4 linked regions of the Homo sapiens genome follow. The protein of the gene in region 1 purifies or fractionates together with the protein of each later gene. This does not show direct contact. Each region holds a gene or a part of one and is shown in the gene's direction. Other genes may lie near its edges.

Region 1 (7,025 bases):
GGCTGTTGTTTTGAGTGGAAAAGCATTTGGTTCTGCAGCAAATGCCTCACAGAGGGAAGTCCTCGCCCCAGGCAGCAGGACTTGCAGTGAATATTGGTTTTGAAATTGTTTGGCCAAGGGTCCCCCCATCACTTTTGGAGATGAAGTGTTTAAGGATAGAGTTGTTTGGGCTCAGGATGCAGCAAATGTTTCCAGAATGTTTTCCCGTCCAAAATGCTTTTCCTTTCCCTAAATTGCCTGGCTAAAGGGCCAGTAACAGTGGTCCAAGAGGTTGTCAGAAATCTCCACTTAGCTTTCATGGACTGGTGAGGTGGGACTGCCAGTCCCCAGGTCCTAGATGCACCACGGAGTATTGACACTGTATAGGCCCTGGACACTGACCCCCACATCCTTGAGGTTGGGAGGCAGGGTGTTCTGGCTCTAACCTAGTGTTCCTCTTAACAGGAAGGCAGTTGTCTTATGCTCATGACACAGGTAAGAGGCTTCTAGTCCAAATTCTTCATGGCACATGCAGCAGGCTTTTTGGGACCTCACAGTTCTCCCTTTAGGTTCTCTGATGGGGAGAACAGGTCAGAGTTGGGGAGCAGGATACCCCTGGCTTGCCCTGTCCTCCAGATAGGACCCTTACCATGTGGCTCAAAAGCTTACAATTGTAGGTCTGCTCAAAGCTCCTTTCAGACAGCCCATAGGAATCTAGAATACCCATACCCTGGAACTTGTAGGCCTGTACACTTCAGCCCACTGGAGATGGGGTACACCTTCTGGAGTCAGACAGCCTAGGTTTGAATCCTGGCTGTGCAGTTACCAACTGTCATAATGGCTCTATACCTCAGTTCCTTCTGTTACAAGGAGCACTTTCTGCAAATGGGATTAATAACAGTACCTATCTCATAGTGGATGTATAGAATAAGTGATTACCTAAAAAAGACTAAGCCCAAAGCAGGCATGTGATAAGCACGTGATTAGTATTAGTCATCCTTATTATACCTGGGGAGGGTCCCCGATGCAGCTTGGACCTTTGATCTCTCACCTTTAGGCTAGGCCAGAGAGCCAGCTCGCTTCTCTGCAGAAGGGATCAGAAGGATCCTGCAGGTGCCAATAGGCAGCCGATATGGGAGCGAGTAGACGGAGCTCTGCCCTCTCTGGGGCAAAGAGTAGGGTGAGAAGGTTCTGAAGAACAAAGTAGACAGAGCCTTTTCATTCTCCCACCATCCCCTTGGTACGTCCCCAGAACTGGTCTGGAGGGTGGGTGTGGCAGCGTCTTCAAGGGGAGCTGAGTCCCCTCTGGGACACTTGAAGTTGCAGACAGGCAATGGCTGGTGTTGCAGGAGGGTTCAGGCTCCTCTAGACTTGGAGAAGCAGGTCCAGGAAGCCGACTGGAGGATCCCAGGCAGCAGCCCTCTACTCTGTATACAAAATCATTTTTGTAACTGCAATTACTGTCCCTGAGAAGGCATTAAAGTTAATGAGAGATAGGAAAGAGTGGGGCTGTGACCCCGGTTTAAAGCGGTTTAAGAGTGTGCAGCTCTTGTTTTCTGAATGTCTGGCCTTCCCAACACAAGGAGGCTCTGAGGACAGGTTTTCCAGCCGAAATATCATTAAATTGTATTAGCATCTTATTACACACACGCCTTAGCGGTCTGCCTCAGACAGGGAGAGTTTTTGTTTCTCTTTGAAAGATTGTGTCTGGAATGGTAAATTGCCTGCTTGAAAGCCCTTTTTTCCCCTTTTTTTAAAGAAGAGGACGAAATCCTGCTGTGTGGTGGCAGGCAGGCCAGGCCTAGTGGCCCCTGGAGAGGAGAGGCTGGAGGCCAGGTTGGGGTGTTTTAACTGCCCAGGGAGTGGCTGCAGTGGCAGGCCTGAAAGGCCCACTGTTCCCAGGGTCAGCTGGAAGGGCGTTAATGGAGGCCCAGGGTGTTTATTTGAGTTTATTTGCAGAGAGGTCTTTAAAGGGGGCTGGCATTGGGCATTGGTGTTTTAAGTCCAGACCTGAGGCCCTCACTAAGGCCAACCACTAGTGCTGCCAAGAAAACATCTGCCACCAAATTGCTGCCCTATTACTGAGTTGACATTGATCATTAGCCAGGAGCCCAACCAAATAAAGCCTCCTGGAAAATGTGTGAGGTTAAGACGGGGAAGGCAGGCTGTGAAAACAAGGGCGAAATCTTGGGCCAGGGTGTTTGTTCCTGCAAGCCACAGGCAGGCCAGCTGGACTGTGTGGTCCCGACACTTCTTGGGGGAGGGAGCGAGAGCACACTCAGCACTCCCTAGTATGTCACTGGGGTTCTGGCTGGAGTCTAAATGGAATGCTCCTTACTCTTCATGGAATATACATTCCCAAGGAGAACGACATGCAACAAGTAGCTCAACAAGCACAGCTGGGATGGGTATTCCGTGGACACTGGGTGGTGAATTTCTTCAGATAGTGTGATGAGCATAGACTGACATGGGCCACACTGAAGCTTAAACCTGAAGGTTGAAAAGTCAGACATGCATAGACCACATAGAAGAATATTCCAAACAGAGTGGAGTACAGCGTGTGCACAGGGCTCGAAGTATGGAATATTTGGCTTGTTCAAAGGAATGAAAGGAGCCCAGCATGGCTAGAAGGTGGTGAGGAAGGGGATAGTGGTCAGTATGAAGCTGTCCAGGTGGCAGGGGCCAGATTGTGTAGGGTCTTGTGGTCAGGAGCTTAGGCTTTGTCTTTTGATCTATGAAGCCTTTGAAAGATTTTCTTAGGGGCATGATATGATCTGATTTATGCCTTTTAAAATTTTTATTTTGTTCTAATTTTTTTTAGAGATGGGGTCTTGCTGTGTTGCCCGGGCTTGCCTTGAACTCCTGGGCCCAAGTGATCCTCCTGCCTCTACCTCCCAAGTAGCTGGAACTACAGGTGCATATCACCATGTCCAGCTTCTGATTTATACCTTTTTTTTTTTGAGACAGAGTCCCACTCTGTTGTCCAGGCTGGAGGGCAATGGCACAATCTCGGCTCACTGCAACCTCTGTCTCCCAGGTTCAAGCAATTCTCTTGCCTCAGCCTCCAGAGTAGCTGAGATTACAGGCTTCCGCCACTAAGCCTGGCTAATTTTTGTATTTTTAGTAGAGACGGGGTTTCACCACATTAGCCAGGCTGGTCTCGAATTCCTGACCTCTCAAGTGATCCACCCACTTTGGTCTCCCAAAGTGCTGGGAATATAAGGATGAGCCACCGTGCCTGGCTTTTTTTTTTTTTTTTTTTTTTTTTTTTTTGAGACAGGGTGTCACTCTGTCACCCAGGCTGGAGTGCAGTAGCATAATCACAGCTCACTGCAACCTCAACCTCCTGGCCTCCCACTTCAGCCCCTTCAGCAGCTGGGACCACAGGCACACGCCACCATGCCCAGCTAACTTTTGTATTTTTCATAGAGTCGGGGATTTGCCATGTTGCCCAGACTGATCTTGAACTCCTAAGCTCAAGTGAGCCACCTGCTTTGGCCTCCATAAGTGCTGGGATTACAGGTGTGAGTCACCGCACCCCGACTGATTTATGCTTTTTAAACATCACTCTGGCAGCTGTGTGGAGCCTGGACATGGGTGAATTGATACTGGAAGCTGGGAGATGAACAAGTGGTTCAGGCAAGAGATGAGATTGGCTTGGACCAGTGTGGTGATAGTAGGAAGAAAGTGGGTGTGTTCTGGAGGCAAAGCCTAGTGGACTTGGTGGGGCCGAGGATACAGAGAGGCTGTGGGCTTTTGCTTCATTGAGGGGACTCTACGACACCCACACTTTGAAGGAGAGCTTCCTACCTGTGTCTCCATGCTGGGGGTTGCATGAGAGGTGCCAATAGACTAGTGCAAATGGCAGGAAAATGAGATCTTTTCTTTCCTAAAGTCTCCTTTATAGGTAGGATTTCGGGAGCACTTTCTGTCCTCGAAAGCAAGTGCCTTGTGACACTGAAATCTTCTCCCACAGCAGACCTTGCTTTGGGGGAGATGGGGGAAGCCAGTGGAAAGGAAAAACCAGAGGCCAAGATCACATCTAAGCACCTCCACCCCCCAAGTGTGTTTGCAGTCCTGGATTTCAGCTTTGGGAAAGGAGTCCTCCCTGTCCCTCTTGCTGAGGTTGCGAGGAGGGTGATCCATGGGGCAAAAAGCTGACATAGTGCGGTCCCAGGCCTCATTAGCCACTGTGACAGTGGGAGCTCGCTGGAGCAAGGAGGCCTTTGGAAGACTTGGTTTAAAGGAAAGAAGCTGCACTCACAAAACAGTGGCTTCCTTCTCAAGCCTAGTTGTTATAACAATTAAGCCACCACAAAATCTGCTCCCTTAATAATAGCCTCCCATGGGACAGCCCTGACCCAGAATAATCCCTAGGCACTCTGGGGTGTTTTGTGGAGGACAGGGTTAGATGGGGAATTGGCTTGGTGCGGGGTGTAGGTCTGCATGCTGTCACCTGTTGGTCTCTGGGCAGTCAAGGAGTCCTTTCGAGGGCACCTTCCTTACTGTATAGGGTCACTGCCTCTTTTTTAGGAGCCCCTCCTCCAGGACTTTCCGACCTGGTCCAAGGCTGCCATGGTATTACTATCTGGCACCCATATGGATCTCTAGCCACTGTGCTGAGGGCTTTACACTGTTCTTATTTATTCTCACCAGCTGATTCTGGCCCACAGATGTGTTTAGTTTGGCCCTTTCAAAGTGTTGTAAAAATTCTGACTCAGTTGCCAACATTTTAAATTAAGGACATTTATGTAAAAAGCCAGTTCCAGTTTATCTCCTCTGGGAGGTATGTCTTTCCCAAGGTCCCTGGTCTATGAGGAGAGGAGCTAGGATTTGAACCCATCAACAACTTCTGCTTTTAATACTGTGGGAGATGCTGGCTCGGAAGTACCTTCTTTGCAGGAAATGAAGAGAAATGGAATTCGCTTACAGGATTGCAAAAGAAAATGGGTGGGTGCACTTTTAGCACCTCCCCCCCACTCCACCCACCGATGTCAGGACAAAGCTGGGTTGCGCTGGGCTGGGCTGAGCTGAGGAAGACGTAGGCTAGAATCAGGAGTCAGGATTCTGTCAGTCAGCCTTTGTCACACTCTCTCTTTTTTTTTTTTTTTTTTTTTTTTTTTTGAGATAAGGTCTTACTCTGTCGCCAAGGCTGGCGTGCAGTGGCACGATCATGGCTCACTGCAGCCTTGACCTCCCTGACTCAAGCTATCCTCTCACCTCAGCCTCCTGCATAGCTAGGACCTCAGGCATGTGCCACTACAACTGGCTAATTTTTAAATTTTTTGTAGAGATGAGTCCCCCTACGTTCCCCAGGCTGGTCTCGATCTCTTGGGCTCAAGAAATCCTCCAGCCCCGGCCTCCCAAAGTGCTGGGATTACAGGTGTCGCACCCTTGACACGCAGACTCTGGAAGGCAGTGAGGGTGGCAGCTGTGGGTTGCTGAGCTGTTTGTACTCTGCTGCGCAGAGACGGAGAAGTCAGAAGGTCAAGAGCACGGTCTCCTGAATCAAATACAGTCACTGACATCTTGGGCAGGTCACTTAACCTCTGAGCTTCAGTTTCCTCCTCTGCAAAAGGGAAGCAGCCATGATATATGCCTATAACAAAGGGCTGCTCTAGGGACTCGTTGAGGTCCCTGTGGACCCTGTGGAACCCCCTCCCGCTACTGTGAGCGCTTAGCAGTCTTAGCCATCCTTGTTCCTGCGTTTGTGCTGCTTGCACCACCAGTGTCCCTTGGAACCTCAGCCTCTGGAGGGCACTTTACCGGCATCTTTGAAGCTGGGCGGCAGGCAGCCTCAATGAGCCTTCCTGCCATCCTGGTCCTGCTGGTGGTGGGCACTGGGGTAGAGAGAAGCTCCCGGCTAAGATCAAGTCCAAGGCAGGAGGGCCATCCTGGTCAGCTGAGAGATCTGGGTGTTCACACCCACCTTAGAGAGCAGATGCTCACTAGTCTCTGCAGGGCTGCAGTAAGATGGTGGCATCCCAGGGCTCAGCAGGAATGGACTGGGGTTGGGGGCAGCTGGAGTTAGGTGCAGATGGGCTGGGCAGTGGGGCTTTCTCTCTACTGACACAGACTCCCTCCCTATCCTTTGCTGTGGGGAGTCAGTCAGGGAACACAGGGGAGCGTGCTCTGAACCCTGAGCCCCCAATGTGTTCCCACATTAGGACTCAGCCACAGGCGAGCTGTAAGACCCAGAGCAGGTTAACGCATCACCTGCTGTGCTCCCCTCCAAGGGGATGAGAGCAGGCTCTGCCACCTGGGACTCGTGAGGATTATAGGAAACAGTGGTGGGAAAACACTTTCAGCAGCCAGGAGCTGATGGAGGGTAAAAAGGCAGCTCAGCATGCGCCTGGGGATCAGACCTCATGGATTCAGTCCCATCTCAGCCACTTACTAGCAGGACAAGGTGCTGGCCTCACTTGTAAATGGAGCTCACAGCTCACCTGGTTAGGAACAGGAGATGATGTGGATAAAGGAAGACTCCGCGTGAGCTCAGTATGAGGCCCCTATGTGAGAGTTGTCCTTAATACCTTGAAGTTAGATGTTGCAGTTGAGGTAGAGTTTATTTGTACGTTTATCTGGGAAGGATGGTGGGGAGTAGGAGGGCAGGGTAGCCCAGCCCAGGACCAGTCACCCTGGGCCTGATGTGTCTCAGGGACCCAGCCTGGAGTGTCCCCCGCCTCTCCCCCGCTTCTGTACACTGCTGACCACCACTCGCAGGACTAGGCCCTCAGTGTTTTCTGTGCTGGCTTGTCCCTAACTTCCGACAGCATGGTCCTCCTGGAAGAATCAGTCTTGTTTGCTGTCCTCTACCCACCTACCTCCCTAGAGGACTTGTGGCTCAGGAGGCCTTTGCAGTGGTGGGCCTGAGTGTCCTTGGGTGGCAGCTGGGACTGGGCAGGTCATGGTCACTATTCAGTTTGGGCTTGCTGATGCCCCCATGTCCTCTCCCTCTACAACAGCTTTGGTTAGACCCTTGCTCAACCAAGGGCTCTGGGCTCAGGAGGTGGGAGATGCAGCCTTTTAGAATCCCAGGGCCTCTG
Region 2 (7,025 bases), on another chromosome or scaffold:
AGCTTCTCCCTGCAGCTGGTTGTCCCATCATCTTCTCAACTCCCGGCAGAGAGGAGACCCTGGGGTGGGCACCTTTTCTCTGCAACTGGCAGGTGGTTGTCTCCCCAAGTCTGGCTGAGTTCAGGCTTTTATAGGTCTCAGCAGGGAGGGTGTGTGTACTGATTGGTTCATTGACAACCATGGGTGAGCCTGGAGAAAGCACCACAAGTTCCCACTCTGGTCATCGGGTGCCAATGGAAAGCCTGGTCCCCAGGCTTCAGGCCTTCCCTGGCTTGAAGGTGGGGTTTCACCAGGGACCTGCCTCCTTTTGCCCAGGAGCCTGCCTGCCTCCTCCTGCTGTTCATGGTGCCCAGGCTGTTTGTGACAGGGGGTGCCTACAGGTACTGAGCTGCCCTCAGTACCCCCTCAGCCTCCCTCTAGTGTTTGTAGGCACCCAAAGTTTAGAGGGGGCCAAGGTGGCAGGGGGCTGGTGTATCAGTGCTATCTGGAGCGTGTGCACACTTGGCCAGGCTGTGACAGTGCCCAGTCTCGGACCCAACCTTTCTCTGAGATTGGAGTGGGTGCTGGGAGTGAGGAGAGGCCAGGCAGTGGGAGCAAACACCTCTGAGCCTGCAGGGACTGGGCGGGGGGCCTTCCTGGGCCTCTGAGAGTGCAGACATGCCTGGGTCTGCAGCTGCAGCTTGGGCGGCTGCAGCTGTGCCTGGGAGGGTGGGGCTCCTGCCTGCTCCCATCCCCCAAGAGCACAGTGATGCCTGGGTCTGCAGCCCACCTGGGCAGGTGGCCGCAGCTGCACCTAGGGAGCACGAAACTCCTGCCCTGTCAACTCAGAAGGTGGCAGGGTTCCCACCTGTTCCTGGCTTCTGCTGCCTCCATGGAGCACGCAGTCCTGGCTGCACCTCCCCCACTGCAGCTGGTATCATGGCAGTGGCCGCTATAGATGGGCCGCTGCTGCCATCGGTGGCATGCACTTACAGTCCCAGCTACTCGGGAGACTGAGGCAGGAGGATCACTTGAGTCCAGAAGGTTGAGGCTGCAGTGAGCCATGATTGTGCCATTGTACTCCAGCCTGCATGACAGAGACAGACCCTGGCTCTATAAAACAAAAACAAATACAAAAACAAAACAAAACAACAACAAAATAAAGTGAGTTAATGGAAAAGGAGCTGTAGGAGTGAGTCAGAAAAAGAGCAAGACTATCAGGAAGACTACAAGAAAAATAACTATGTGAGTACACTTTCAAGAACTAGAAATTGGCTGCTTTAGTCATGCCATAGTGTGGTGTGTTAAAATGAAGAATGAGGAAAGACCTTTGGATTACCAACTCTGTGGAATTTTGTGACTTCTCCGGAGCATTGTCAAGTAGCTTGCTATGTGGGAAGAGTGGTAAGGGAGTAGAAAGTGAGTTCCCAAATATTTGGGAATATGGTGATTTTCAAATACTATTTTCTGGACCAGCAATAACAGAATTACCTGCATTTCCTCAACTCATAACTATTGTTGAGCCTGGTAATGTACATTTAAAAAAAAATTTTGTTTGTTTGTTTGTTTATTTATTTATTTATTTATTTAGAGACGGAGTCTTGCTCTGTCACCCAGGCTGGAGTGCAGTGGCATGATCTTGGCTCACTGCAAGCTCTGCCTCCAGGGTCCACGCCATTCTCCTGCCTCAGCCTCCGGAGTAGCTGGGGCTGCAGGTGCCCACCACCATGCCTGGCTAATTTTTGTATTTTCAGTAGAGATGGGGTTTCACCATGTTAGCCAGGATGGTCCTGATCTCCTGACCTCGTGATCTATCCGCCTCGGCCTCCCAAAGTGCTGGGATTACAGGTGTGAGCCACCGCACCCGGCTGGTAATGTACGTTTTGAAAAAGCTCCCCAGATGATTTTGATGAAAGCTCATGTCTCGGATTTGCAAGTACAGATTTTCCAAGCTGTTTAGTAAGGACTGGCTTGTGATCAAGATGGATTTCTGAGTGGTATTTTGAGACAAACCCTCCTTTTTGTAAAAAAAAAAACAAAACAAAAAAACCCACAAAGCAGTAATTGATAAAATAACAAAGATAAAACCAAACTGACAAAACTAGGACTCAAAAAAGGTAAACACTTCTGTTTCAGGAAGGAGCAGGTGTGATTTTGGCTGCTTTGAAGTAATGGGGAAGTGTAATTAGAGTTGGGCTTATTGTTGGAAACAGTGGTCCAAGATAGGACTCCTGTTAAAAAAGATGTTTCTAAGTTTACTTCCAGGGCTGCCATATTATACAACTTTAGGGATTAGATTGTAGTTACTTAGTACAGTGGTCTTTAACCTTTTTGGCACCAGGGACTGGTTTCATAGATGAAAATTTTTCCACAGATGGGGTAGTAGGGGATGGTTTTGGGATGAAACTATTCTGCCTCAGATCATCAGGTATTAGATGATTAGTTAGATTCTCTGGCATTAGTTAGATTCTCATAAGGAGCATGCAGTTTAGATCCCTTGCATATGCAGTTCACAATAGTGCTTAATGCTTCTATGACAATCTCATGCTGCTGACGATCTGACAGGAGGCAGAGCCCAGGCAGTAATGCTTACTTGCCTGCTGCTCATCTTCTGCTGTGCGGCCCAGTTTCTGACAGGCCATGGACTGGCACTGGTCCATGGCCCAGAGGTTGGGGACCCCTTAACTTAGTACATCTCCTGGAGTGGTACAGGTCACAGCCTCCCTGGCTGTAAGAAGATTTGCTGCTGACTGCTGCCAGATGCCATAGCGTATATGAAGCAAACACTTAGGGATTCAGGAAAGCAAACATAGCTATACAACTAGGAACCTGGTAACTCAGAGTATATCCTCACTGTTATTGCAGAGCAGAATCTCCAGCTAGACTATCTGTAAGAAAAATATTTATGAGATAACTGAGGAAATTTGGAAATTTGAATATCAATTGATCATTTAATACCAAAATTTTTAATTTTTAAAAATATATTTATGATACTGTAGTTCTCTTAAAAAAGTAGTAAACATGTTCTCAGTAAGTGTTTGTATGAAAAACAAAAGAAGTTCCATCAAAAGTGCACTTGTAAAGCTAAATTCTCAAATATATGAACTCATCTCATGCTAAGGAAGATATGAAATAACCATAAGAGCAGTTCCGTCTGGATGACATTTCAGTGTTAGTCTGAAAAATATTAAATTACATACTGAGGGTTTTCAAAAAGAAAAGGAGTAATAGCCCTTAAGTATAAATAATTTTGAAATGTAAATCGGCGGAAAAAAGATGAGGTGGATTTGAAAATGACAAAAACTTTAGAAGTGAAAAATATAGTTGTAATTTTTAAAAGCCAACAGCATGGTGTTCATGAATGAGAAGAGTCAATTAGATGTCAGTTCTGTCCAATATTAATCTGTAAAGTCAATGCAGTATTAAAATCTGAAAAGGTTTTTTTTCACGATAGTAAACATGCAAACTTAAACATTTTTATGGTAGTGTAAATAGCCAAGGTAAAATTTGTAAAGAACAACACATTAAGGTAATGTGCCCTTCAGATACCAAAATTTATTATAGGACTGTAGTAATTAACAGAGGTTCAGGGGTGGAAAAATAGACCTATGGAACAGACTATAGAGCCCAGAACAGATTGATAGGTACAGATCCATAGATGGAATCTATTTTCAGTATGCTATGAGATAGGACTGTTAATTTTCTTCACTCCAACTCAGATTAGCAATTGAACCAGTACCACAGTGAATAGTTTGTCCTTTCCTCACTAGTTTATTTCTTTTTTAATTTTTTTTTTTTTTGAGACAGTCTCATTCTGTCACCCAGGCTGGAGTGTAGGGGTGCGACCTCAGCTCACTGTAACCTCTGCCTCCCGGGTTCAAGTGATTCTCCTGCCTCAGGCCCCTGAGTAGCTGGGATTACAGGGACGTGCCACCATGCCTGGCTAATTTTGTATTTTTAGTACAGACAGGGTTTCACCATGTTGGCCAGGCTGATCTCGAACTCCTGACCTCAGGTGATCCGCCCGCCTTGGCTTCCCAAAGTGTTGAGATTACAGATATGAGCCACCACTCCTGGCCTATATGGCTGGGTTTTTTTTATATGTTTTGTATTAATCTCTGTGTTTGAAAGACCATCTAGGCAAACAGGAAAAAATAGTTTCTTGATTAGAAGACTTTGACAAATATGTAGTAGTATGAGAGGATAGATAGTACCCTGGGCAACATGGTGAAACCCCATCTCTACTAAAAATACAAAAATTAGCCAGGCAAGGTGGCGCACACCTGTAGTCCCAGCCAGGTTGAGGTGAGAGGATCACCTGAGCCCGGGTGATGGAGGGTGCAGTGAGCCAAGATCATGCCGCTGTACTCTAGCCTGGGTGACAGAACAAGACCCTGTCTCAAAAAAAAAAAAAAAAAAAAAGGAAGTAACTGAAAGTATTTCTTCTTATTATTTTTTTAATAGCACATCATCCTTATATGTTAAAGGATGAAATAAATAAGGTAAATATTGATGACACATGAGAGTAGTTTTTTGGGGGCATATAACTAACTAATGAAGATAAGAAACAGGTTTTATCAGCCCTGGAAAGTGTGTGGGGCATATTTTCTCAGTAGAAGACAGGAATGGAATAAGATAGATGAGGTAAAGATAGGAATAAATTTTGAGTTGGAGAAGCCATTTGAAGGAAATCACTATTTTCTCAGTGAGGTATAAAAGTTGAAATCATTCTTCTAGAAGTGTAATATACTGTATACGAGGTTCGAGAAGATGGGAAGAAAATGCAGAATACTTGTAAGGAATGCAATAAATAAGGTTAGGTAAAAAGATATAATGGTAGCATTGAAGGAAAAAGGGAAGCTGAATAAAATTTGTAGTGGTGCCTAGTTGTATAATTGTGTTAAATTTGCCTAGCAAGTCAGGGGCAGGATTCTTTTGTCACTCTTGCCAAACTCCCTTCTCCTTCCCACCTTGTGGGAGGGAGTGAGTCAGAGCCTAGAATTCCTTGAAAATATATGTCTATCTCCTTAGTTGGTTTCTCTCATCATTTTCTTGGTTTTATGTAATTTCTATGTTTATCTATCTTCTTGCTGTTTTTAACAAATTTTACAAAATTTTTGCTCCATTGTTGGGATGCTTTCTTGTTTTTGCTTTATCCTTAAGAAATTTTGGGTACAGGGCAATTAGATTTGCATGGTTATTCTGTCTTAATCCAGTCTTTGTTAAGTATAAGGAAAGAACTTGGTTCTAATCCCAAGTTCCTTACAAACATTTGAGACAGCAGGGGAAAAATAATTTTTCTTTGTACTCTTTGGATTTTTGTATAATAAAACATTGAAATATATGTTTTTTTTGGCAAGTTACTATTTTAGAAAGTGCCTAGATTTGGACAGTGAAACTTAATATTATGTGGTCTCAATGAAACTGTTGCTGTGCTAAGACAAGAGTTAGTATTTTGTGTTTTAGAAGATGTAATCAACATGCTTGTTAAGCTTTTCTTTCTTGAGCATCAGAAAGCAATGTGTATTTACTTCTAAATATTTTGCATCTTTTATGTTACAGTTATTTTACCAAGAAAATGGTTTGCACGACTTTGAACATATACTATCCATGCTGATGGGACAGGATCCAATATGAATATAAATGATGGAGGAAGACGACGCTTTGAAGATAATGAACATACATTACGGATATATCCTGGGGCTATTTCAGAAGGGACAATCTACTGTCCGATTCCTGCCAGAAAAAACTCCACAGCTGCTGAGGTGATTGAGTCTCTTATAAACAAACTTCATCTTGACAAAACAAAATGTTATGTTCTAGCAGAGGTAAAGGAATTTGGTGGAGAAGAATGGATTCTCAATCCAACAGATTGTCCAGTTCAGCGAATGATGCTGTGGCCCCGAATGGCTCTGGAAAATCGCTTAAGTGGAGAGGACTACCGCTTCCTTCTGAGAGAGAAAAACCTTGATGGATCAATCCATTATGGTAGCCTGCAGTCATGGCTACGGGTAACAGAAGAACGTCGCAGGATGATGGAACGGGGTTTTCTTCCACAGCCTCAACAGAAAGACTTTGATGATTTATGTAGTTTACCTGATTTGAATGAGAAAACTCTCTTAGAAAACCTACGAAATCGCTTTAAGCATGAAAAAATTTATACCTATGTTGGCAGTATTCTAATAGTTATTAACCCATTCAAGTTTCTTCCTATTTATAACCCCAAATATGTCAAAATGTATGATAACCACCAACTGGGAAAACTTGAGCCCCACATTTATGCTGTGGCTGATGTAGCTTATCATGCCATGCTTCAGCGCAAAAAGAATCAGTGCATCGTGATTTCAGGAGAGAGTGGTTCTGGGAAGACTCAAAGCACAAACTTTCTTATTCACCACCTTACTGCTCTCAGTCAGAAAGGATTTGCCAGTGGAGTAGAACAGATTATTCTTGGAGCTGGACCAGTACTTGAGGTAAATATATAGAAATCTTATTTTTGATTTTAATTTTGATTTTTATCCTTTGAGGTGGGGGGGTGTACCATTCCTGGAGGTACTGCAATACCAGGTCGATGTGTGGAGTAGATCAAGCAAGATACTGTTCCATCTCCCAGCTCCAAAAACTCATTTAGGGCTGGGCGCAATGGCTCATGCCTGTAATCCCAGCACTTTGGGAGGCCTAGGTGGGTGGATCACCTGAGGTCAGGAGTTCCAGACCAGCCTGACCAACATGGAGAAACCTGTCTCTACTAAAAATACAAAAAAAATTAGCCAGGCGTGGTGGTGCATGCCTGTAATCCTAGCTACTCGGGAGGCTGAGGCAGGAGAATTGTTTGAACCTGGGAGGCAGAGGTTGTGGTGAGCTGAGATCATGCCATTGCACTCTAGCCTGGGCAACAAGAGCGAAAATCCATCTCAAAAAAAAAAAAAATTGTCTTTGGATAGAAGACATTTCAGATATTAAACTATAAAAACATAACTGTACTTGATCTTAGCCAAAAGGCTGAGAAGCTATAGAAATACTGTTCTTGCTATTCTGGGCACACT
Region 3 (7,025 bases), on another chromosome or scaffold:
GCATTGCTTTCTCCCTCTCCCTTAGGGAGCCCAGATTCTGGGTCTCTCACCCTAGAGGGTCTTTGTACCTAGAAGTTAGGGTGAGCCCTGCCTTGCCATTGATTACGTTTACTTATTTCCACCAGCCTGATGACCGTGGTACAATCAATGACATCTCTGTGCTGAGAGTGACTCGCCGTGGGGAACAGGCTGATCATTTCACCCAGACACCCCTGGATCCAGGAAGCCAGGTTCTGGTCCGGGTAGATTGGGAGCGGAGGTTTGACCACATGCAGCAGCATTCAGGTAAAGGCTGGGATGGGGGACATAACACCGGAGCAGTTGCCATGTATGGGGATGCTGTGATGACTGAGACGTAGTTTGGGTTCTCTAGGAGTTAACCTTTTGGAAAAGACAGACTATTCAGAATCAGCTGTAATTCAGGAAGGATATCCTAAATGTTATAACAGCAACATGAACAACTGAAGTAAAAAAAAGTATTAGAATAACTGCTGGATTTAGGTATTATCAACTTCCCACTCGATATCTCCATCTGGATGTCTCACAGCCTTTTCAAACTCAAAATGTCCAAAATGAAACAAAAAGCCTTCCCCTCCCTCCTGGTCTTTCATTAGCATCCTGTGTGTTCATCGCAGGGCATCAGCATGCACCTAGTCACTCAAGTTCTGGAAGTCATTCCAGATACCTCTTCAGGCATAGACAGCCAGCCAATCACTGAGTCCTGTTGGTTTCTTTTCTTTTTTTTTTTTTTTTTTGACACAGAGTTTCGCTCTGTCACCCAGGCTGGAGTGCAATGGTGCGATCTCGGCTCACTGCAACCTCTGCCTCTCGGGTTCAAGCGATTCTCCTGCCTCAGCCTCCCGAGTAGCTGGGATTATAGGCCCCCACCACCATGCCCAGCTAATTTTGTATTTTTAATAGAGACGGTGTTTCACCATATTGGTCAGGCTGGTCTTGAACTCCTGACCTCAGATGATCCGCCTGCCTTGACCCCGCAAAGTACAGGCATGAGCCACACCCCCCCAGCATGTTGGTTTGTTTTCTAAATGTCTGTCCACTTCTTTCCACAGTCACTGTCATCCTAGTCCCAGCTCCTAGCTGTCTTCCCCCTGGACCTCTCTAACAGTTTCCTAATTGATTGCCCCACATTCAGTCTGGCTCCTCTGTAGCCCATTCTCCACATAGCACCAGAACAGTCTTTTTTTTTTTGAGTTGGAGTCTCGCTCTGTCGCCCAGGCTGGAGTGCAATGGCATGATCTCGGCTCACTGCAACCTCACCTCCCGGGCTCAAGTGATCCTCTTGCCTTGGCCTCCCGAGTAGCTGGGATAACAGGTGCGTGCCACCATGCCTGGCTAATTTTTGTATTTTTAGTAGAGACGGTGTTTCACCATGTTGGCCAGGCTGGTCTCGAACTCCAGACCTCGTGATCCGCCCGCCTCGGCTTCTCAATGTGCTGAGATTACAGGCGGGAGCCACTGCGCCCAGCTGAACAATCTTAAAAATGAAAATATGGCAGCCAGGTGCGGTGGCTCACGCCTGTAATCCCAGCACTTTGGGAGACCGAGGTGGGCAGATCATGAAGTTAAGAGATCGAGACCATCCTGGCCAACATGATGAAACCCTGTCTCTACTAAAAATACAAAAATTAGCCAGGCATGGTGATGCGCGCCTGTAGTCCTAGCTGCTCAGGAGGCTGACACAGGAGAATCGCTTTAACCTGGGAGGTGGAGGTTGCAGTGAGCCGAGATCGCGCCACTGCACTCCAGCCTGGCGACAGAGCGAGACTCCATCTCAAAAAAAAAAAAAGAAAAGAGAAATGGCTGGGCACTGTGGCTCACTGCTGTAGTCCTAGCACTCTGGGAGGCTGACACGGGAAGATCGCTTGAGGCTAGGAATTCCATACCAGCCTGAGCAAGATAGTGAAACCCTGTCTCAGAAAATAAATGTAGGCTGCTCGCGATGGCTCACGCCTGTAATCCCAGCATTTTGGGAGGCCAAGTCGGACAGATCATGAGGTCAGGCATTTGAGGCCAGGAGTTCGAGACCAGCCTGGCCAACATTGTGAAACCCTGTCTCTACTAAAAACACAAAAATTAGCTGGGCGTGGTGGTGCATGCCTGTAGTCCCAGCCACTCAGGAGGCTGAGGCAGAATTGCTTGAACCCAGGAGCCAGAGGTGGCAGTGAGCTGAGATGGCACCACTGCACGCCAGCCTGGGCAACAGAGCAAGACTCCGTCTCAAAAAAGTAAATATAACTTTTTTTTTTTTTTTTTTTTTTTGAGACAAAGTCTCGCTCTGTCACCCAGGCTGGAGTGCAGTGGTGCAGTCTTGGCTCACTGCAACCTCTGCCTACTGGGTTCGGGTGATTCTCCTGCCTCAGCCTCCTGAGTAGCTGGGATTACGGGCACGCACCACCACATCCGGCTAATTTTTGTATTTTTAGTAGAGATGGGGGTTCACCATGTTGGCCAGGCTGGTCTTGAACTCCTGACCTTGTGATCTGCTCGCCTCGGCCTCCCAAAGTGCTGGGATTACAGGCTTGAGCCACCGCACCTGGCATAAATAAATATAAGTTAAAGTGGAAATGTAAACAAGAAAAATAAAAACAGACTGAGCGTGGTGGCTCATGCCTGTAATCCCAGGCACTTTGGGAAGCTGAGGTGGGCAGATCACCTGAGGTCAGGAGTTTGAGACCAACCTGGTCAACATGGTGAAACCCTGACTCTACTAAAAGTACAAAAATTAGGCATGGTGGCGTGCACCTGTAATCCCAGCTACTTGGGAGGCTGAGGCAGGAGAATCGCTTGAACCCGAGAGGCAGAGGTTGCAGTGAGCTGAGATTGCACCACTGCACTCCAGCCTGGGTGACAGAGCGATACTCCATCTCAAAATAAATAAATAAATAAATACAAAAATAAATAAAAATAAATATGTAAAATGAAATAAATTTTATTTAATTTTATTTGTTATTTTTATTTTTTTTTGAGACAGAGTCTCACTTTGTTGCCCAGGCTGGAGTGCCGTGGTGCAATCTTGGCTCACTGCAACTTCCACCCCTGGGATTCAAGCAACTCAGCCTCCTGAGTAGCTGGGATTACAGGTGCATGCCACCACACCCGGCTAATTTTTGTATTTTTAGTAGAGACGAGGTTTCACCACGTTGTTTCAGGCTGGTCTCAAACTCTTGACCTCATGATCCACTTGCCTTGGCCTCTCAAAGTGCTGGGATTACAGGAGTGAGCCACCGCGCCTGACTGAAATAAATTTTAAAAAATGAAAATATTATGTCACTCCTCTGCTTAAAGCTCTTCAGAGGCTTCCTGTAGGTCTTCGTGTAAAGCCAAACTTTTTACCATGGCATACAAGCTGTATCTGGGTGGCTCTTGTCTACTGCTGTAGCCTCATCTGGTGTCCCTTGACCTCTTGCTGGCTGCATCCTGGCCTTGCTTGTCATCTCTGGATTCCTTTGACATGCGCTACTTCTTTCTTCCTTAAGGCCTTTGGCTGTCTTGTTCCCTCTTCCTTGATAGTTCCTCCTCTTTCTCCTTTTCTTCCTCCTCCTCTTCCTCTTCTTTCTCCTCATCATCACTCTTGTCAATCAGGGATGCTGCTGTATCTCTTATGTCAAGCCCTGTGCCTTGCATTTGGTAGGTACTCAATAAATACTTGTTGAATGGATGAATGCTGCATATTGGAACTTAAGTTCACTGGGCACAGTGGCTCACACCTGTAATCCCAGCATTTTGGGAGGCCAAGGCAGGTGGATCACTTGAGGTCAAGAGTTCAAGACCAGCTTGGCCAACGTGGTGAAACCCCATCTCTACTAAAAGTAGAAAAATTAGCCGGGCACGGTGATGCACGTCTATAATCCCAGCAACTCAGGAGGCTGAGGCACGAGAATTGCTTGATCCTGGGAGGCGGAGGCTGCAGTGAGCCCCTGCACTCCAGCCTGGGCAACAGAATGAGACTGTCTCAAAAAAAAAAAAAAAAAAAAAAAAAGGAAGTTAAGTTCAAGTCCAGCCCCTTATAAGTTACATTGCCATGGCAAGTTATTTGATCTCTCTAGGCTTCAGTTTCCTCATCTGTGAAATGGTATCATAAGGCCTCTTGCAGAATTCTCATTGTGATTTTCAATAAAGTATCTAAAGTGTATTACCCAGTGCTTAGCAGGTCTTCAACAAGGAGAATTTCTGTGCTTTTATCATTGTAGCTCATATTTTATCATTGTGGGAGTATGTAGGCTTCTCACTTTTCTCCTGTCTCTGGCTCTCTTTGCTTAGGGCAGCATCTCATCACGGCAGTTGCTGACCATCTATTTAAGCTGAAGACAACATCATGGTGAGTGGGAGGCATAAGACTAACTGTAGGCAGGCCCATCCCAGCACTGGGAGGGAGGCGGAGGTGGGAGAATTGCTTGAGCCGGGGAGATTAAGGCTGTGGTGAGCTGTGATTGCCACCAAATGGCAGCATGGGTGACAGCGAGCTTGTCTTAAAAAAAAAAAAAAAAAAGGCCAGGCGCAGTGGCTCACGCTTGTAATCCCAGCACTTTGGGAGGCCGAGGCGGGCGGATCACGAGGTCAGGAGATCGAGACCATCCTGGCTAACACGGTGAAACCCCGTCTCTACTAAAAATACAAAAAATTAGCCGGGCGTGGTGGCGGGCGCCTGTAGTCCCAGCTACTCGGGAGGCTGAGGCAGGTGAATGGCGTGAACCCGGGAGGCGGAGCTTGCAGTGAGCCGAGATCGCGCCACTGCACTCCAGCCTGGGCGACAGAGCGAGACTCCGTCTCAAAAAAAAAAAAAAAAAAAAAAAAAGTGGTGAGAGGGTATGCTTGTTCCAGTTTTTAGAGGAAAAGCTTTCAGCTTTTTCTTGTTCAGTAAGATATGTTATCTGTGGCCACTGTACTTCTGACAGGGAGTTAGGGAGATTTCGGAGTGCGATTGAGCTGGACACCCCCTCTATGACTGCAGAGCAAGTAGCTGCCATTGAGCAGAGCGTCAATGAAAAAATCAGAGATCGGCTGCCTGTGAATGTCCGAGAACTGAGCCTGGATGATCCTGAGGTGGAGCAGGTAAGGGTAGAGCCAGAGGGATGGTTTCTGCGGAATGATTCCTCATCAGATTCAGACAGTCCCTCCCCTCTCCTTGAGTCCAGGTGAGTGGCCGGGGTTTGCCTGATGATCATGCTGGGCCCATTCGGGTTGTTAACATCGAGGGCGTTGATTCCAACATGTGCTGTGGGACCCATGTGAGCAATCTCAGTGACCTTCAGGTAAGTGAGGAACGGCTGTGGAGTGGCTGAGAAGAGGGATTGGGGGAGAGGGGATCACATGGGGCTGGGAGTGGGAGAGGGGGATAATCGAGGAGTCCTAAGTGAAATCTCCCCTTCACTGTTTCAGAGCTGAGGAACAGATAGGTTTCTCCTGCCTTCAGGTTCTAGGATCCGCTGTGGTTTATGCATGTGCACACGTGTGTGTGTGTGTTACCCCCTTGCCTCATGTAGGTCATTAAGATTCTGGGCACTGAGAAGGGGAAAAAGAACAGAACCAACCTGATATTTCTGTCTGGGAACCGGGTGCTGAAGTGGATGGAGAGAAGTCATGGAACTGAAAAAGCACTGACTGCTCTGCTTAAGTATGCCTGTTTCAGTACCTTCGATTACCTCCCATTTCTGAGATTTTCGACATAATCTCTTACCTCTGGGAGATAAGATGCAATCGTAAATGATAAAGTGCGGCCAGGCGTGGTGGCCCACATCTGTAATCCCAGCACTTTGGGAGGCCGAGGTGGGCGGATCACGAGGTCAGGAGATCAAGACCTTCCTGGCTAACACCGTGAAACCCCGTCTCTACTAAAAATACAAAAAGAACTTAGCCAGGCATGGTGGTGGGCGCCTGTAGTCCCAGCTACTCGAGAGGCTGAGGCAGGAGAATGGCGTGAACCCGGGAGGTGGAGCTTGCAGTGAGCCAAGATCGTTCCACTGCACTCCAGCCTGGGCGATAGAGCAAGACTCTGTCTCAAAAAAAAAAAAAAAAAAAAGATCAAGTGCTTTGGATAGTAAATCAGAACCACGAAAAGTGGTTAATTCCTTTGTATGTTTTCTCCCAGTTGCCTAAGAGACCTCCTCAGAATATCTCCTGGTCCCTGACTGCAGGGAGGCACCATAGCAAGAAGGAAATTATTGATTTATGTCCCCAACATCAGAAACGACTGGGAAGCTGCGCAGGTCTCCTCTGACCTTTCTCTTTCAGGTGTGGAGCAGAGGATCATGTGGAAGCAGTGAAAAAGCTCCAGAACTCCACCAAGATCCTGCAGAAGGTGATTTATTCCATGGAGGGTAGAGAGGGCATGGGCCCTGCCTAGGATAGGCTCTGCAGACTTGGTCTTCTGCCTAAACAGATGTGTAGTTTGTCAAAGTGGGAGTGAGGGGAGAATGAGGTGGAGGGAAGCTGATACTCTCTATTGTTATCCTTTCCATTTATCTACTGAGTTACCATATCCATTTCAGAATAACCTGAATCTGCTCAGAGACCTGGCTGTGCACATTGCCCATAGCCTCAGGAACAGTCCAGACTGGGGAGGTGTGGTCATATTACACAGGTGAGAAATTAGGAGCTGGACACAAGGAAGGGGAACTGTGTTGGGCTTAGGGCTCAGTGTCTTCTCTATATGCAATGTACAGTGGGAGGTGGATTGCTCACTGGTATTCTCAAGGTTGAGTAGATCCTAAGAAATATGTTACTGGCCGGGCGCGGTGGCTCACGCCTGTAATCCCAGCACTTTGGGAGGCTGAGGCGGGTGGATCACAAGGTCAGGAGTTCGAAACCAGCCTGGCCAGCATGGTGAAACCCCTTCTCTACTAAAAGTACAAAAATTAGCTAGGCATGGTAGTACGCGCCTGTAGTCCCAGCTACTCAGGAGGCTGAGGCAGGAGAATCACTTGAACCCGGGAGGCAGAGGTTGTGGTGAGTGGAGATCACGCCACAGCACTCCGGCCTGGACCAACAGAGTGAGACCCCATCTC
Region 4 (7,025 bases), on another chromosome or scaffold:
CACAAAAATCTATCCTGTTAAAATAGTTTTGTTCTAGAAGCATGATACTCATAAATAGTTGTTAAATACTTATTTGTGTTTCTCAGCCAGATGTCACTGTCATAAGGATGTATTGGATTGCAATACCTAATAAAGTTGATTTATACATACCCTGATAAAATTTGAGCTTTTAGTTAATGCTTGAATGATTTTAGCAGTCTCTTGCAGTGCTCAATACCCTTGAACTTGCTTCTTTTTTTATATCCTGGCCTGTTCCTGAGATGGTTATATTTCAGATGCACATTTTACCTATAAATTTGAGAGTTTTCATCTGATACTCTAATTAAGGAAATATGTGAGTTTGACCTTTTGATTTCTGTCCTGTCCTTATTGTCTTTCAGGAAGATGATTAGACAGAGTTATATGCTAAGGCCTCTCAAGTATTTGTTTCAGCATAACAATAGGTCACATTTTCATCTAGTTTAAATCTAATTTAGAGATATAAAGAATCATTTTCATGACCTGTTATCTGAGAAATACTTTGCTATCATGGTTTCTTCTTCTTCCCCAATTTACCCTCTTTACTCGCTATTACTAGACCTTTTCATGGTTAGAAATTTAACTTACTGCTGTCTATTTCAACTTAGAATGTAACAGACTTGATTGCCTCTTCCGATAGGGCAAGCTAGACATCTAAATTTTATAAATTGATTGTATTGGAAGCAGTAGATCATGTAGAGACTTTAAAAAAGCTGTATTTAGTTTTGTTTGGGTCCATTAGTGATACACTTTAAATGTGAATATTAGAAAACCAGAGAGTCAAAAAAGAAAGAGTCAAAGATTACAACTCTATGCAAATATTATAGGATGAAGGATTTTTTGTTTGTTTTGTGCAGAGGGGCCAAGTATGACTTAAATTTGCTATGATCATGAGTGTGTTAACAAGTAATGTTGGTAGAATATCCTTTGTCTTTAAAGAGGCTAGAAAAATTATAGGAGTTTAAACTTAAAGCTGTTATGATTTGGGGTTGTAGAATATGATTTGGGATTATAGGGCAAGGAAACTTTGTTTATAGCACTTGTTGACATTAACTGGGAAAAAAAGAAATAATTAGACTCTGTGGTTAGCCCTGTTTTAGGAATCTGTGGCTAATGGAAAATCTCTCAATTGGATCAGTACCCTCTTTACTATTGTAAATCAGTCTTATGAAAGCAGATGTTTGTGGAAGGGTGAGGTAACTTACATCCTTGCTTTGCTTGATGCCTGTGGGGACAACATGGTGATCAGCTAGAAGAGGTGCTGTAACCGTTCAGAATCATGTAGGTTGAGGGAATGCACATGATGGATTTCAGGCAAGTTCACAGCTCTTATTATGGCTGTTTAATATTGTTTAAATATCCTAGTGCTTTATAGCTTAAGTTAATTCTTGTGGTCAATGGGACTTTCCAACTTCTAATTTGATTTAGTACAGCAGTAGTAAATAGAAGAAAAATAATGCTCATTGCCTAATAATTGCTTATAATATTAATCAGGTCATAATCTCTTTTACATATGAGGAAGTAAGAATGATTGGAAGCCGTCTTATAAAGATGCCTACCACAAGTGGTTAAGGCTTTTCTGTCTTTGTTTATTTTAACTATGAATTTGGTTTTTAGAGTTATTAACCCTTTAGGTTCTAGTGCCTTTTCTGAGCTATCTAGTATTGAAAGTCTTGTCATTATTTTTAACATTTTCATATGTAGTGAACTTTATCAATAATATATTTAATAAAATGAAACAATCCTTAAATGCAGAGGTGAAGTGAGTTAGGGCAAGGTGTATGGTATGAAAAAGAAAGGTCTTTATCTCACCCTAACACTACCCCCTCAACCTAACATTCTTGCTCACTGTGCTTTATATACATATTACACGCTACATCATACTTTGTTTTTCTCTAAGCATACTGTTTGTCTTTCTGTCTCTACATTTTTTATTGTGATTCCTTTTTTCCTTCTATTTGAATACAATCCATCTTCACCGTCTTAATTCGTACCTCCTTCGTGTCTACCAGTGTTACTTTTTTATGTACAACTTCTGACTCTTTTTGAACTGTTGCTTATTTGTGACATCTAGACTATATTTTTATCCCTTATTATATTAAAAATCATATATAAATCTTGATTTGTCAGCTAAATTCTAATTCCTATGAAGGCAATGATTCTCTTCCATTCTTCATATATCCTCCATTTAATCCAGCACCAAGCACGTAATAGCTCAATATTTATTATTAGTATAATTGTAGGTACAAAAAGCAATGGAGTGTTTTCGTTGCATTAGTGGTCTTGGAACTTAAATATGAATATTTTTTCTGATTTCCCTTGAGATTAAATTTTGACAATGAAAGAGGTATGCTCAAATAACAGACGTCTGTGTTCACACTATTATTGGAAAGGAAGTTCCATTAAAGGATGCTCAATTACCTGCAGATTCTTTGAATAGGAGCAAGTATCCATAATATGTGATGTTATAGGTTTTTAAATATTCTAGAACTCTGAAAAGTAATGTGTGTGTAAAGGTAGAAGGAAAACTGGCTTTCAGTTTTTGAAAAAATCACAAACCAACACCCTAATGATTGTTGTTAATATATAAAATACAAATAATAGGACAATATTACTAGTTTTTATACTTGAGTTATATTATTCTGAAGAATGTTTTTCAAAAAAAAAACAGTTGTTTTCTGCATGCAGAAAGTTCAGAGGTCAATGTCAGGTAAATGGCAAAGCAGAATTTGTTACAAATAAAGTTAAATTTGGTTTCTGTAATGCATTAGCTATATGACCTTGGGCATATTACTTAAGTAACCCTTCCGAGCCTTAATTTCTTCACCTATAAAGTAGAGACAGTAATAACTTCAAAAGATCAGATCGAGGGCTAGAAAAGATAGGTCATCTGATGCGTCAAGCACATTACCTCCTCTTCATAGGCATCTAACCCATGCACATTGTGTTTTGCTACCTTTCTCCCCTTCTTCCTCATGTTAGTTACACATTATTTAATTCTAAACCTTACTTAAAATGTTGCCCTGGTAGAGTATCATAGCACATGTTGATATCTGTAAGAAAGTTATTTCTAATTCTAGCAGTAATCCAGTGGGAAACTAGACTTAGAAAAGGATGTTATCAATAATGTGACATGAATATTTTTCAAAGAATTTGTGTATTTTTTGGTTTCACTTCAAAGTAATGAGTTTGAAAAAATATTAAAATATTTAATATTAAGTTTAAAAAATACATTAAGACATTTTTTGTTAGTTTGAAGTGTCATATAATTTTCTGAAATTAGTCAAAAGATCTCTCAGTGACAAAATAAAATTTTGCCAAGTTAACTAGGGAAATAGTATTATAAATAAAATAATTTTAACCAGATCCTTTGAGGAATGGAGTTTTCTGGCTAACAATCCCTTTTGTTTCACCTCTTCACATAAATGTTTACAAGCATTATGATTCACTCTCATGCCTTAGAGTAATAGATGTATAGAATATAGGAACTTCTTTGTAGACTGAGGATCTTTCATCATTCTAAATAATAGCTTTTATCGTATGACAGTGTGGATGATGGCCTTATAAGCAGGAGGAGATTAGGCTCTAAGTAATCACAGGGCATATTATGAAAAGTGACCAGCCTCCACCATCCCCTCCTCCCATTCTCTAATCCCTAATCAGTTTTGCTTTAATTTTCATGTCCTGACTTCTGAAAATGGAGTATAGAACATTTCCTAACAAGTTGAGAGTCTGGGTCTTAGAACTTAAAATTTATTGAAGGAGACTTGGGAGATTATTTAGCCTAACACCCTCATTTTATAGATTAAAAACCTCTGAGGCATAGATTAATTGACTTGCTCAAGGATACTAAGCAGATTCACTAAAAGAAACAAAAATTTAGGTTTCCTCATTAAGCTGACACTTTAACAGTGTCCCAAATTTTGGTGGTTATCTTTGATCTTCTTTGAAACAGGTAGATCGACACTTGAGAAAGCTGGATCAGGAACTGGCTAAGTTTAAAATGGAGCTGGAAGCTGATAATGCTGGAATTACAGAAATATTAGAGAGGCGTAAGTAAAATTTACAGTTTTCCATCAATATTGGACAGTACATGTGCAAATCGCTGAGAAGACCTTGTCCCACAGAGGCTTTTGAAATCCTGCCCTTCAATGGATGGTGGCATCCAGGCCAGATAGCTTGGACCCTAACAGTTGGAAATGTTTGGGTCATGCATACTGAGAGAGATAATATAGGATATCATCCACTCACTCTTTATGAAACAACATATTAAATCATTTTATATCCACATATACTAGTAAGTTGAGTGGTAAGAACAAATTTAAAGAAATGTAACCATCGGGAGACAAATTAACCATCTTGCATTAAGTGTGTTGACTTTACTCTGCCTCTTTATACACTTAAGCTTTGAGGAAAGTTGTTAGTTTCTCTTCTTAAGAATTACTTTATGGCTTTTCCTTAACTGCATATACTGAAAAAGACTCACATTGGTTTCATAACACTACCTCTTTTTCTTAAAGAAGTGTTTTCTTCTTTCCCTTAGCAGCAAGAAACCATTTTGATATTTCTTTGCAAGGCTCTATTTGATCTCCTGCTATAACTTACCCCTGTCACTTCTTTGGTGTGACTTCCCAAAAATGGAAGCATGAGCACTGTTTCCTTAACTAATTTAGCATTTCTTCAACCTAAATAGGTAATGTACATAAAAGCAGTTAGTGTGGTACTAGGTGTAGAGTAGGCACTCACTAGATGTTAATTGAACCAAATTAATATTATGGCTAATTTCTACTAGAATTTAATTAAAACTTACAAACCTTCTTTTTCTTGGTGCATTTCAACAGTAAGAATATGTACCTGTTTCTACACACAGATGAAAGATTTCTTTACAGTGCCAATCTATGTATCTCTCTACTCACTAGAAGTCAGCTAGGGAAGCCAATCACAGATCTGTCTTGGTATCCATAGTTGCATTTTTGTGTTCAAAAGTAGATCCATCACTTTAGATAATCATCCTATTTATTTGTGATACTTTTCTTCTGGAGGAACCCTATATAAAGATAATAAGTATTTTGAGACAAAATTAAAAATTCTGTATCTGCTTTGATTTTTTAAAAATGCTGATGATAGCTGTGAGTAATGATAATTCATGCCTATTCAGTACTGCAGGAAGGTTAATAAAGCATCCTCTCTAAGGACACAGACATATGAAACAAAATTGGATCAAGTTATAAAAACTGCTCCACCCTGTGCCCTGCCATAATTTCATCTCAAGGGATCAAAAATAAACCCAGAAAAATGTATTTAGAGGTATTTTAAAGCTTGGTGTTAGAGATTCTATTCCTCACTTTTTGCGAACAAAATCCCTAACTTCTTTTAGGAAGTCTTTATTATCATAATGTCATTTTAATGATCAAATAATTTTTTTCATATAGTAATGTCCCCCATCACGTAGAACTTCAGAATCTCCCATTAAAAGGTCTTCAACTCAGTAAAACTAGGTTGACTCTTACCAGTAATGAGATTACAATGTCCATTCATCCATTTATATGGCACCCACTATGGTGAATTCCCTAATTAGACACGAGTATGCCTTGAGCCATTTTGTACTTAAGATTAATATTGGGAAAAGGATAACTTATTGTTTAGAGAGAGGATAACTCAGTGTGGGATGGACAGTGGTGATCCTCTAACATGTCTGGCTAAAATAAATACAGGCATATGCATCAGAACTTGCTAGTCCTCTGCTGGGTAAGGGAACTCATTGCCTGTAGTTGAGTGACATGTGAAGTTCTGCGGTGACATTTAATGGTGGTGTATCTCTGTGCCTCTCTTCTTTTAGGATCTTTGGAATTAGACACTCCTTCACAGCCAGTGAACAATCACCATGCTCATTCACATACTCCAGTGGAAAGTAAGTTTGGTGTAGTGCAGCTAAGTTTTAAAAACAATGAAAACCTTATTATATCACCTATATGTTCTCTTTTTTTAACTCTACACAACCAATTGAGAAATAAATCCCTTCTTTTTTTTTCATTGCAAGTACTGGCAGACTTGTCTTTTTCCTTGGGGGGAGCATATGTGATTCGGAAATGAGTATTCTGTTTTCTCTTAAATGCGTAGAAGGAGAATGTATAGTACTAATAGCATATATTCCCTTCATACACATACCTGATTCTCCTTAGGGAGCTTTTCAACTGAGCATTCTCCTTAGGGAGCTTTTCAACTGAGCCAAACAATAAGCTATTTTGTAATAGGCCCTTTGTCTTTTTCATCCTTGCTTCTCCAGTGCTTAACCTAATGTTTGGCATATAATTAAGTCTGAATGGTTGGTAAGTCAGTGAGTGGATGAATTGTTAGTTAGATGACTGGCTGGCTGGTTGGTAACAGTCAAAAAATGACTATATCAGTACATCTTTTGACACATCAATTTGGTGGGAAACTATTTTAAGTGGTAGATTGTGTTTTGAAAACAAAATTTCCCTCACATTGTATGTGAGCCCATGGTGTATCTTGGGTTATCTTTAGTACTTTGCTAGAAGTTTTTTAAATGGTGGAGAAGTCTACTCTTAATAAACATGTGACACAGAGTTCTGCTTGTCCTGCCTTCTGAGGAAACATCATGTTCTGTATTTTATGAGGAACCCAGATCATACTGTTTCACATTTTAACTGGATATAAGTATTATGCCTTGTCCATAGTTCTCTAAAGTTTAAAAACACATGAATTTTTTATTTATATTTAGAAAGGAAATATAATCCAACTTCTCACCATACGACAACAGATCATATTCCTGAAAAGAAATTTAAATCTGAAGCTCTTCTATCCACCCTTACGTCAGATGCCTCTAAGGAAAATACACTAGGTAAGTTAATTTTCTTAAATATGATTGCTTTGTTTGTTTGTGTTAGAGTAAGGGGAAATAAAGTGTTTCAGGATTAATGAATCATACAGTTTCTTTACCTGGTTAAAGTATACATATGGAGAAAGAAGAAAAAGGAAAACCAAAT

What was found.
Region 2: the proteins of JADE2 (region 1) and MYO9A purify together in Homo sapiens (affinity purification with mass spectrometry; 3 studies listed by BioGRID and IntAct, with this or other methods). This does not show direct contact.
Region 3: the proteins of JADE2 (region 1) and AARSD1 purify together in Homo sapiens (affinity purification with mass spectrometry, with the first as the bait; 3 studies listed by BioGRID). This does not show direct contact.
Region 4: the proteins of JADE2 (region 1) and ING3 purify together in Homo sapiens (affinity purification with mass spectrometry; 4 studies listed by BioGRID and IntAct, with this or other methods). This does not show direct contact.

Annotation. Positions count from the first base shown.
Region 1 is NC_000005.10:134,528,662-134,535,686, forward strand, and holds part of JADE2 (E3 ubiquitin-protein ligase Jade-2), read left to right. Parts: intron 1-3,222; exon of another isoform or gene 3,223-4,884; coding exon of another isoform or gene 4,885-4,929; intron 4,930-7,025. UniProt on the Homo sapiens protein: Scaffold subunit of some HBO1 complexes, which have a histone H4 acetyltransferase activity. Acts as an E3 ubiquitin-protein ligase mediating the ubiquitination and subsequent proteasomal degradation of target protein histone demethylase KDM1A.
Region 2 is NC_000015.10:72,045,151-72,052,175, reverse strand, and holds part of MYO9A (unconventional myosin-IXa), read left to right. Parts: intron 1-5,541; 5' UTR 5,542-5,612; coding exon 5,613-6,452; intron 6,453-7,025. UniProt on the Homo sapiens protein: Myosins are actin-based motor molecules with ATPase activity. Unconventional myosins serve in intracellular movements. Regulates Rho by stimulating it's GTPase activity in neurons.
Region 3 is NC_000017.11:42,954,452-42,961,476, reverse strand, and holds part of AARSD1 (alanyl-tRNA editing protein Aarsd1), read left to right. Parts: intron 1-125; coding exon 126-285; intron 286-4,281; coding exon 4,282-4,339; intron 4,340-4,916; coding exon 4,917-5,073; intron 5,074-5,156; coding exon 5,157-5,273; intron 5,274-5,504; coding exon 5,505-5,635; intron 5,636-6,252; coding exon 6,253-6,319; intron 6,320-6,509; coding exon 6,510-6,601; intron 6,602-7,025. Other genes in the region: PTGES3L-AARSD1 protein, read left to right, coding at 126-285, 4,282-4,339, 4,917-5,073, 5,157-5,273, 5,505-5,635, 6,253-6,319, 6,510-6,601. UniProt on the Homo sapiens protein: Functions in trans to edit the amino acid moiety from incorrectly charged tRNA(Ala).
Region 4 is NC_000007.14:120,960,769-120,967,793, forward strand, and holds part of ING3 (inhibitor of growth protein 3), read left to right. Parts: intron 1-3,973; coding exon 3,974-4,070; intron 4,071-4,487; exon of another isoform or gene 4,488-4,703; intron 4,704-4,934; exon of another isoform or gene 4,935-5,065; intron 5,066-5,857; coding exon 5,858-5,929; intron 5,930-6,760; coding exon 6,761-6,880; intron 6,881-7,025. UniProt on the Homo sapiens protein: Component of the NuA4 histone acetyltransferase (HAT) complex which is involved in transcriptional activation of select genes principally by acetylation of nucleosomal histones H4 and H2A.